Linked DNA regions of Homo sapiens. The protein of the gene in region 3 interacts with the protein of the main gene of each other region in a pairwise test. Each region holds a gene or a part of one and is shown on either strand. Other genes may lie near its edges. The genes, in order: ZFHX3, ELOA and TRIM54.

What was found.
Region 1: the proteins of TRIM54 (region 3) and ZFHX3 interact in binary tests that used the Homo sapiens proteins (3 or more experiments, as listed by UniProt).
Region 2: the proteins of TRIM54 (region 3) and ELOA interact in binary tests that used the Homo sapiens proteins (3 or more experiments, as listed by UniProt).

The regions. Positions count from the first base shown.
Region 1 is NC_000016.10:73,041,399-73,045,149, forward strand, and holds part of ZFHX3 (zinc finger homeobox protein 3), read right to left. Parts: intron 1-3,751.
Region 2 is NC_000001.11:23,753,350-23,757,100, reverse strand, and holds part of ELOA (elongin-A), read right to left. Parts: intron 3,002-3,751; coding exon 2,846-3,001; intron 2,739-2,845; coding exon 2,641-2,738; intron 1,259-2,640; coding exon 1,078-1,258; intron 828-1,077; coding exon 716-827; intron 149-715; coding exon 1-148. UniProt on the Homo sapiens protein: SIII, also known as elongin, is a general transcription elongation factor that increases the RNA polymerase II transcription elongation past template-encoded arresting sites.
Region 3 is NC_000002.12:27,285,418-27,289,168, reverse strand, and holds part of TRIM54 (tripartite motif-containing protein 54), read right to left. Parts: intron 1-3,751. UniProt on the Homo sapiens protein: May bind and stabilize microtubules during myotubes formation.

The DNA.
Region 1 (3,751 bases), on a different chromosome or scaffold from region 3:
AAAGGGTGTGCAGGGCTGAGGTGACCCTACTACCGTCATTTCTGCCATTCTTTACTTGAACAACATTTTTTAAGTGGGCAAAATACTATCTTATGAAAAACAAACCAACAGGGGCCCAGGTAACACACATTCATATAGTCAGTTACACAGACTGAAAGTCTTCATCAATGCCCATCTCAATTACGTTATCAAATAACATAAGGGGACACTATTCAAGATTCCATCAGAACAGAGATGGCATTTAAAAGCAGTCGCTTGAGTAGTGACACCAACCTCCTGCCGCACACACTGAAATCCATGAGCCTCTTCTAAAGTGTCCAAAAGTTGACCTGACACTTTAACGCTGATGCAGATACTCCACAAAAAAAAGCGGAGCTGTTAAAAGGGAAGCAGAAACCATTCCTCCAGTCAAGGCCAAATGTACATTAAGAACCAAGGCCTTGAGCCAAAGAGCATTTTAGGAAGCAGGGCCTTAAATGGTGGAAGAGGCTTGCATTGCTTCTTGAGTAGTTAAGAACAATTGTTTAAAAAAAGAAAAAAGAGAAGTTGGGAGATGGAGAAGAAAGGCACCCATGTGTTCTTCAGCAACTTCCACGGGACAAAGATGTTGGGAAGGGAGAAGTCATCAGAAATAGGCCACTCAGGAGACTGGAAGCATGGGGAGCAGCTCAGTTCATGTCTACACATATGTGGTTTTTATAGACTTTCAGGAGTTTAAATGCTTCTGAAAAGCGATGTTTGCATACTGAAGGGAGACAGACTTCCATATTTGAACAGGCACTTATATGACTTTTTCAGGGGATGCAGGGCTGAGATCAACTATCAGATTAAGCCCCTTGGTCTTTCTGCACTCGGCTAATCTGCCTCCTGCCTCTCCACTAAGGAGATTCAAATGAGAAGACAGAGGCAGTCGCCTCTGAACTAGAATCTTCCTACTGAAATGCAGAGCCTATGATAGAAATGGGCACCGGGGACCATCTATCCAAAAGCCAGCCTAACCGATACACTCAGAAGAATTTTTCTCCAGTCACACTCCTGGATGGAGTCAGGAACAACCAAGAAACAAGCAAAACTGTTCTTTTGCCTCCTCCTTCCTGAAAGAACCCCATCAAGAAGCCTACACATGACCCCTCCAGTGTGTAAGCCCCAATCATGCCTAACCACCCCAAATCACCCCAAGTACTCAGCCCTACTCAATAACTAACACCCTCTCCCATCTACACAGAACAGCGGGTATAGGCAGTCACTGACTCCTGCCCTAGAAGCATCGGGCGAGGGGTCTCACTCCCAGATCAAAGGTTTGTGGCCAAGATAACTTTTGGGACAGTGGATGAAATCAGCAGCAGATGAAAACTCCACAGCCTTTTTCAGAGTCCAGTGGAGCCAGTTCTCCCACTTCCAGTCCAAGTCTCCCTGCAGATGACTGAAGGTGATCCATACATTCCTAACTGCTGCCCCGAAAGACCCACTTACAATTAAACTCCAGGTCACCAGTTAAGAAAGCCTTTAGGCCCCTTATGTCATTAGCTTCCTCCCAGAAACCAAGCAGAATAGAAAGTGAGAGGCATCCCAGCACCGGCCCATCTTCTCAAGGTGTGGCCTTGCAAGGGAGTTTCAGTGGCTTCATCCCAAACCACCAGCAGCCAGGAGTAGGGGTGGGAGTGCGGCAGATGTTTTGCCCGCCTCACTGGAAGCTTTAGACCTGACTCCAGGGAGGGAAAAGGATGGACAAATCTCAGAGGCAGCACATGTGTTAATACCAAAGCTCAAAGAACACACAGCAGAACCACCTAAGACCTCCAGGACACAGCAAGCCAGCTAAGGCCCCTCTGGAAAGGTACACATCAAACCCCCCACACAGTAATCCTCATGTTGAGACTGCTGTGGTGACCCTCTGATGGACAGGGAGAGGGGGTCACCCAAAAGGCAGATGAAGCCCAGGCATTTTGCTAAGAGGCCCGGGCTGGAGTTAAAACCAACAAAACAGAAGTCTTGCTTCAAAATGGGGCTGAATTTGCCATCTCGCAAACTTTCTATGTCTCCCTCCCTGTTTTTATTTGAGCCCTTATTCTTGTAAAAGCAAGAAACTCCATGAATGAAGGCTGAAAGGCAGAAACGTCAAAGAAAGAAAAAATCCCCTTTAAATGTTAAAAGCCAAAGTACTTTCCTTGGGCAAATAACTCTCTAGAGACACCCCCATCACTGCCTAGACCACGGCCTTGTCCTCACCCACCTGTCCCCTGGCCCAAAGAATGAAAACCAGAAACATTCCAGTCGTTTCCCTACTTCTGAAGCTTCAGCTCAGTGCTGCTGTCAATCGGCACTAAGCCTTGCTCTGCACCTCTGTCCTCAGTTTCTGTCCATATCAAAGTCATTTACCATATTAGCCCAAAGAAGCCCTCCAACATCTGATTGCCACTTTGCACATGTTCAAAGAGATCAATCTGGCAGTCAACTTTAAATCATAGAGAAAAGCCCTCTGACAGTTGTTGATTTTGTAGTGCTTCTCTTTAATCTGGATTTTCAAAGTGGCTTGCCAATGAGCCAAGATTTCTGCCTGGGTCTCTCCCTCGGGGCGGTTTGACACAACCGTAGCTTCTGTGTGCTCCTTTCTCAATCTGAGTGGCCTGAGGACACAGGACACTGTGCTTTGGACAGAACAGGCGCCCTTTATGATTTAAACTAGCTCCTGCCAAGGAATTCCCTTGCCTAGATTCTATTAAAACTGGGTTCCCATTTCCCCTGACCATAGTTTTTTAACTCAGGCAGAGGACGGTGGTTCTGAGCTGTGCTGTGATTTCTAATAATAACCATTACCACCAAATTCTCATACCAGAGCATTTGGATACCCCTATGAGGTTCACTGTAATGGAATCTGCCTTCCTGTTGTGTTTTTACAGTAACGCCCCCATCCTGGTTAATTGCACCAGCCTTAGGAACCAGAGCAAGCCAACAGGCCCAAACATCACAGAAATAGGCCAGGCTAACAGCAAGCAATCATTTTAATAACAAATGAAAGCATAAACCACAGCACATACTGTACTTCTTCAGGTTACTGACAGGCATCTTCAGTGTGCAGTACGAGTGAGGGTGAGATGGAGTTTATATAAGTTTGTTCAGACCAGAATCATTGCTGCCTACTTGTAAGTCAAGGCTAAATCCTTAGAGCTGAGAAACAAGTGAGTTACTCTTAAAAGGTGAGTGTTTGTTTGTTTGTTTGTTTGTTTGCTTTGAGATGGAGTTTCGGAGTTTCGCTCTTGTTGCCCAGGCTAGAATGCAATGGCCCAATCTCAGCTCACTGCAACCTCCCCCTCCCAGATTCAAGCGATTCTCCTGCCTCGGCCTCCTGAGTAGCTGGAGTTACAGGAATGCACCATCACACTCGGCTAATTTTGTATTTTTAGTAGAGACGGGGTTTCTCCATGTTGATCAGGCTGGTCTCGAACTCCCAACCTCAAGTGATCTGCCTGCCTCAGCCTCCCAAAGTGCTGGGATTACAGGCATGAGCCACCATGCCTGGCCAAAAGGTGAGTTTTATAAAGACAGCTCACTTTCTTCCCCTTTAAATAATTCAAGCCAGTTCCCTACACTTTTACAAAATGTTGCTTAGTCACTTAAATATTTACTTTTTAAGATGACACTGTTACAACTCTGCAATAAAAATAATTTCTTAAGTAAGGGTCTGCTCTGAGCCCTGAAGCATTTCCAGATTCTTACTGATACTTTGTAGGTGGAAGAAAAAAAGCTCCTA
Region 2 (3,751 bases), on a different chromosome or scaffold from region 3:
ATAGGAAACAGTGCTGCTGACCACTGGTGCCAAGTGGGCACTGCTGGTGCTTGGGCCATCATAGGCCGGCTCCTCAGGGCTGGGGTTAAAGCTGATGCTACTGGCGGAAGCATGGCTGCTTCCCATGGGGTACGGGGCTGGCTTGATCCTGCAACACAGGACAACACTGGTTAGGCATGAGCACAAGAAATCTGCCCTGAGCATGAACAGCCTGAAGCTGGCCTGTGTGAGGATGACTCACCCTGTTTGTGGCTTTGACCAATGGACCCTATCACCCTGGATTCTGGTGGTGGCTCAGAGATGTCTCCATTATCCTTTCAGAAAAAATGATAATCTCAACTAACTTTTCACTGTTTTGGTATAAATCTGTATTTTGAAAAGGCTAATGTGGCTTAGACAAAATAACAATCATTGCAGAAATGTGTTTTTTGTTTAGATGGGAAAAGGGAAAGCATAAGGGAATGTTTCCCATAAGCCAGGCTTTGCTCTCCATTTAATCTTGACTACCCTAGGGCAGGGGTAATTATCACCTTGCACTGCAGTCCAAGAAGCGGAGGCTGAGGGAGGTGAGGGAAGTGCTGAGCTGATGAGGTCTGCCTCCAGAGCCCACAGTCTGCACTGCCTCACTTTCACCAAAAGCAATTTGCTTCCTGCCGCTATGGCTACCTCTAAGGGTTGATAGCACACAAAAGCCAGGTAAGAACACAGATCTTACTTGATTTTCTCAGGGACAGCTGCTCCTCCCGTTCCAAACTTTTCCTGCCTCCTCCGGACGTCACGAGGTGGCTTGGCCACAGAGTTGACAAAGGCCATCTTTGCTTGTCGGCCTGTGGAATTATGGAGATGAACATCTGCCTTCTTGAGCAGAGATGCTACTGTTATTTAAATAATCCACGGGCTTTTTGAGTGCCCTGAAACCCCACTTGTAGGGTAGAATGGGCGGTGGCAGAAGAAATACCCACCCTGCTACCTGATGTAGGGGCAAGCAGTCCTACACCAGCCAAGCCCACCAACACCCTGCTATTGACCAGAACACTCATCCTGCCAGTTCTCCCCCAGCTCTCCCGTCTCTGTTACCTTTGGGCTTATTGGCATGTGCGAACTGGATATTCTTTGTTAGTACTCGTAGCCGCTGCTCTCGGGCGTCCTGAAGCCGCAGGTACATCTCTCGCCACGACTCATACTCTTCGGGTCTTTCTTCCTTAAAGTCTCGGTGACAATGAACTTTCCATAATTGATCTGTTTCTTCAATTAATACCTGAAACCAGAACCAGGACATCATTTGTGTACAAGCACTTTTCCATATTTTTTTTTTTTTTTTGAGACAGAGTCTTGCTCTGTCGTGTAGACTGCAGTGCAGTGGTGCAATTTTGGTTCACTGCAACCCTTGCCTCCTGGGTTCAAGCGATTCTCACGCCTCAGCCTCTCAAGTAGCCAGGACTACAGGTGCTTACCACCACGCCCAGCTATTTTATATTTTCAGTAGAGATGGGGTTTTGCCATGTTGTCCAGGCTGGTCTCGAACTCCTGACCTCAGATAATCCGCCCACCTTGGCCTCCCAGAGTGCTGGGATTACAGGCGTGTGTCACCATGCCCAGCCTCATATCTTTTTCTGATTATTTAATTACCTAGGAGTGACCAGTTTCCCAAAAATTTTTTGGTCTTCATCTTAGTAGTATGTTAAAATACCACAATTCTAGGAAAAAAATAACTCCCTAAATTTTAAAAATGCGAAGTGTGAGGCACTATGCTAGTTGCTTTTGGTGGCTGTGACAGAATATCACAAAAATCTGTGTAACATCAGTCTTTTCCTTTAGAAAATCAGCAAAGGGTAGAACTGCGATCAAGTCAAATCAGGTACTTCCCAACACTACGCTGAACTGTGATGGCAAAGGGGCAACCTAAGAAGGATGTTAAGTTATTGGCCAGGCGCGTTGGCTCATGCCTGTAATCCCAGCACTTCAGGAGGCCAAGAGTCTGAGAGTCCATCTCTCTAAAAAATAAAAATATTAGCCAGCTGTGGTGGTATGTGCCTGTAGTCCCAGCTACTTGGGAGGATCACTTAAGCCCAGGAGTTCAAGGATGCAGTAAGCCATGATTAGGCCTCTGTACTGCAGTCGAAGCAACAGAGGTAGACCCTATCTCCAAAAAAAAAAAAAAAGGTGTTAGGTCATAGAACTTTCAGAATTAAAGAGAGACAGCTGATGCAATCAAATGTGTATACCCTACATCCTAAGGAGGATTCTGGATAAATCTTGATGTTTCTTAAGAGACATCCAGCCAATCACCAGATGTCAGAGTGTCAACACAAAGTGCTTTCCCCGCCCTGGGTCCCAGCTACTCTGCTGCCAGAATTCTCCCTTTACCTTCATGACTAGGCAAGCTCAAGGGAGATGTTAAGTGTTTTTCTTCTCCCTTTGAATCCCACCCTGATCCTAGCCCAAGAGGCCCACTTAAGGTGCCAGGAGCAAGTGCTAATAACATGCTTGTTTAAAGGCCCAGTGGCAAACCAAATATATCCAGAACAATGCTCTGACCACTGATCTGCCCTTCAGCCACAGCGGAGTCACAGGGACAAAGCTATTTCTGGAGGTACAAGCCAGAAAACTGCCCTCTTCCCACCCAAACAGAATACTCACATGATTGTATTCCTCTATGCGATACAGCTGATCAGGTGTACACCTCTCCAAAACGGGTTCAAGAACAGAGTATGGGACTCCTCCCACTTCAAAGATTGCTGCAGAGAAACCAAAGGTGAAGACACTGAGTAGCAGCCAAGCCACCCAGTGATAAGGTCCAAGTGCTACAATGTGCTTGAGAGCTAGAGAGAAGCGTGTGACTTACAATCGATGTTGTTTTTAAGTACTCGGATGCATTGCTGGTGCAAGGTCATCATTTTAGGGAGATAGGCACACTTGGAACCAGAATACACCTGCATCTTGGAATTCATTCTGCGCCCAGTAAATCCAGCTTCTTCTTCTTCCTGGGGTGAAGAGAACGCTATAGGGCAAGAAAAACACAAAAGGCCCTAAGTGATCCAGTGAAAACTCTCCTTCTACCCCCTTCAGCCTCCTACTTCCCTTTCCCAATGGCAATCCACGCTACAGATTTTTGTAGATCCTTCCAGAGAATTTAAAAATAAGCTCCTGTAATCCCAGCACTTTAGGAGGCCAAGGCACATGAATCATCTGAGGTCAAGAGTTCGAGATCAGCCTGCCCAACATGCACCTGTAGTCCCAGCTACTCAGGAGGCTGAGGCAGAGGAATTGCTTGAACCTAGGAGGTGGAGGCTGCAGTGAGCCAAGATGGAGCTACTGCACTCCAGCCTGAGTAACACAGCAAGACTCTCAACAGCAACAACAAAAAAAAGCAAATGTATCTTATTCCTTTTAAGCCAATGAATCAATTAATAACATACTCACTACATACATTGCTTTTTTTCATTTGCCACATCTGAGAGATCATTCCATGTCAGTGCATAGACTTTCCACATTTTTTTTTTACTGTGGCATAGGATGCCACTGTGTAGATGAACCATGATTTATCTGTTAGTCTCCTGCTGATAGACCCTTATGTGGCTTCTACTTCTTTTGCTATGAAAATTAGACATTTTTTTCTTTCAGACAAAAATCCTATGTAACACATAGGATAAAGGGCTGCTAATAACAGCAGCAGCAATTTACTGAACAATTACTATGTGATAAACCCAGAGCAAAAAGGCATCACTTCTGAATTCATTAAACTGAGCCC
Region 3 (3,751 bases):
CACACAAAAAATTACTCCCTACCCTGATTTTAAGTCCCTCAATTTTCTCATCACAAATAACGATTTTATACTCTAAGGGATACATGACAACTTCCTTAATACATCTTCATAGCTGACAGTCTCTACATTAGGCTAAAGATCTTTCAGCTGACTAATATCCAGTTAGAAAAATCCTATCTTCTGCTTCTGTTTATCTTTCCATTTCAAGACTAAGAGATAACTGATTGGTTCTATTATACACATAAATGTCCTGTTCTTTCCTTAAATCTTACATTTATGCAAGGAAGCCAGCCCCATAAAGTAAAATTTCACGTGCCAATGATGTGATGTGTAGAGGAAATTCCATCACTCTAGGAAACATAACAGAACACCTAGATTTATGTCCTTAGTCTGTCCCTTTGTTTGTGTGACTGTGACCTGTTTCCTATGTTCTCTTCTGTAAAACGGAGATAACATCCATTCGATCTAACTCAAATGGAATCATGTTTGTGAATGTATTCTATAAATTATAAGGCACTGCACAAACACAGAGGACTGTTAACAATCCTAATCTAGACCTTAAAAAGAAATGACCACACAGAACCACAGGGTACGAAATGACTGTTCTTTCTCCACTGTGAAGGATAAGATGGAATGGAACAAATAAATGGAATTTAATTCTAGGCTATGTTCAAGGCTGTTGTGTGGAATATATGCCATGAGCTCTCTCTCTTTTAGGCTTTACGGTGCCTTCTATTTCCTTTGTAATGTTCCATAGCATCTAATAGAAATGTTCCATCTAGAAAGATGCTCTGTAAATGCAGCTAGTCTAGCAAATCCATACTTATGTCAGAATGTTTTCCCTCTTCCCTGGCTATCCAGAGAGGTGCTAATTTGGGACACAGGCTCTGGATGCAATGGGGCTTTTTGGAGGCTATTTCCCTCAACCTGAAGGCCTGGCCAGTGATGAATGATGGACCATCCAAGTTCTGTGAGCCAGACACTCAGAATATGCTGGAAAAACCTTGGGAAAACGGTGGGCAGAAGACCAGACATTTGGAGAAAAGCTGAAGCGCCTGAGAAGAATCCAGGTTTTGGTAAAAGCTGAGCTGCAGGTATAAGAGGGACTGTAAACAGAGGGCTAGCTATGGGCGGTAGAACCTAGGGAAGAGCTTGGCCCAAGGGGCTGGTAAACCAAGCCCTACTGCTTGAAAGGAGGAGTGATAAGCAGAAGAGTGGGCCAAATTAGGACACTGGTCACAGAATGGAAAGCCCTCAAAAAATGGAAATCCACAAAAATATTTTTCGACTTTGTGAAACCAAATCGTTAGAATTGCAAGAGATGTTAAAGGTCAGTTTAAGGCCAGGTGCAGTGGCTCACGCCTATAACCCCAGAGCTTTTGGAGGCTGAACTGAGAGGATCGCTTGAGGCCAGGAGTTTGAGACCAGCTTGGGCAACATAGTAAGACTTTGTCTGTACAAAAACATTTTTTTTTTAATTAGCTGAGTGTGGTGGTACATGCCTGTAATCCTAGCTACACGAAAGGCTGAGGCAGAAGGACTGTTTGAGCCCAGGAGTTCAAGGTTACAGTGGACTATGATCGTGCCACTGCACTCCAGCCTGGGTGACAGAGTGAGACCCTGTCTCTGGGAAAAAAAAAATCAGTTTAAAACACCCTTTTCGGTCAGGAACAGTGGCTCATGCCTGTAATCCTGGCATTTTGGGAGGCTGAGGTGGGAGGATCCTTTGAGTCCAGGAGTTGGAGAACAACCTGGGCAACATAGAGAGACCCTTGTCTCTACAAAAAATTACAAAAAAATTAGCCAGGCATAGTGGTGCACACCTGTGGTCCCAGCTACTCAGGGGGCTGAGGTAGGAGGGATGGCTAGAGGCTGGGAAGTCGAGGCTGCAGTGAGCCATCATCATGCCACTGCACTTAACCTGGGTGATAGAATGAGACCCTGTCTCAAAAATAAAGAAAGAAAGAAAACACCCTTTTCATTTATAGTTATGTAAACAGGCTTGAAGTGGTGAAATAGCCTGATATGCATTGTGTGGCAAATTAACAAAGAAACCCGTCAGAGGAGAATCCAGGAGTGCTAAGCCTTAGTCTAGGTTTTCGTTCTCACTAAATCAAGATCTTCCCTACAGAAGTAAGAGCCCTAACCCTGCTACAAATTTAATGCAATTCACAAAATTTTAGTGAACCAATTTTGCATCAGGGAGACCTGCCCAAAGTTGGACTGAAGAAATCCTGGTGCCTTCAGAATGGGTAGAAGTGGTTGAGGAGGCAGGCTGGGTAGGATCTTCTCTGGCAGGCCTGTACCTGATGACACCTGGTCCTAACAACTAAAGGATAAAGAAATGGAATTTGGGTGGCGCGAAACAAAAGTCATCTCTCTCAGACTGCCCCTTGTTAGAGAAGGAGGCTTCTTTCTTGACAATCCCCCCTCTGCAAGTCCCTCTGTAGACAGACCTCCTCCAGAAAAGCTGTTCCAGAACAACCTTCTTACAAGGCCTTTTGGTTGTCTGTTAAATTACAACAGGTTGCAGGCTCAAAAACAAGTGCCCACAGTGAAGTGGAGGCAGGTATAAAAATAAACTGAAGGCTTGCTTTAAAGCCGTTTAGGAGTGAATAGAATTTACAAATACAGAAACACATGGGAAGATGTTTGTGTCAAATTCCCACACCAACAGCTTTCCTTTAGTGGAAGTTCTTGGTAGCTGAGTGGGTGCAAGTGTGGGGAAAGAAGGAGGAAGAAATTAGAGGGGGTTAATGTGGTGTCTTGGTGTTTCATTCTGTTTCAATTCAGAGAGAAAGAGTTGTTACAGCTCTAAAAAGAATTACATTAAGATGGCCACTATGTAAAAATGTTTGCGGACATGGGCTTGAATGTAATATGCAAAAATTGCTGGGCTTGGTGGTGTGCACTCCAGAGGCTGAGGCAGGAAGATAACTTGAGCCCAGGAGTTCAAGATCAGTCTGGGTAACATAATGTGACACCATCTCAAAAAAAAAAAAATAATATGCAAAAATAAAAATAACTGTGTTGGGGAGGTAAGATTATGGATGATTTCCTCCCAACCCCTTAATACTGTTCAACTAACAGTATTTTCTTTTTTGTAGAGATGAGGTCTCACTATGTTGCCCAGGCTGGTCTTAAATTCCTGGGCTCAAGTGATCCTCCTGTCTCAGCCTCCCAAAGTGTTGGGATTACAGGCATGAGCCACCTTACGTAGCCAGTATTTTTAAATAAATTGTTTTCAAATTTTGCTTCCTGGCTGTCTAGTTAACTTGGTCTTATAAAATCACAATTCCCAAAAACTCTTGTTTGTTGTCCATCACGGCAGTTTTTAGGACAACAAAACACAGAAAACCATCTAAATGTTTTAGAGGACAGATTATTTAAATAGACTGTGGTCCAGTCATAACAATGAAAACTACACAGCTATTTAAAAACGAAGACATAAATCTGAATGGTGGATATGGAACAATCACCCACAGCGAGTAAGTGAACAAAGGCAGGTGGGGGGCGATGGGTCTCGCCTGAGAACACATATACATGCAAATGTGCCGATTTGTGGAAATTTTCTGGAAGTATTCCCAAGAAAGTTGGTAATAGTTACTTCTATCTGGTGAGACAACTGAGGGTCTGAGGTGAATAGCAGATTTGCTTTTCATGATATGAACTCCTATACTGCTTGAAAACAGTATGTTTACATGTTACAAATTCTAAGTGATATACTGGTATCACTTTGATAACCGTTAAC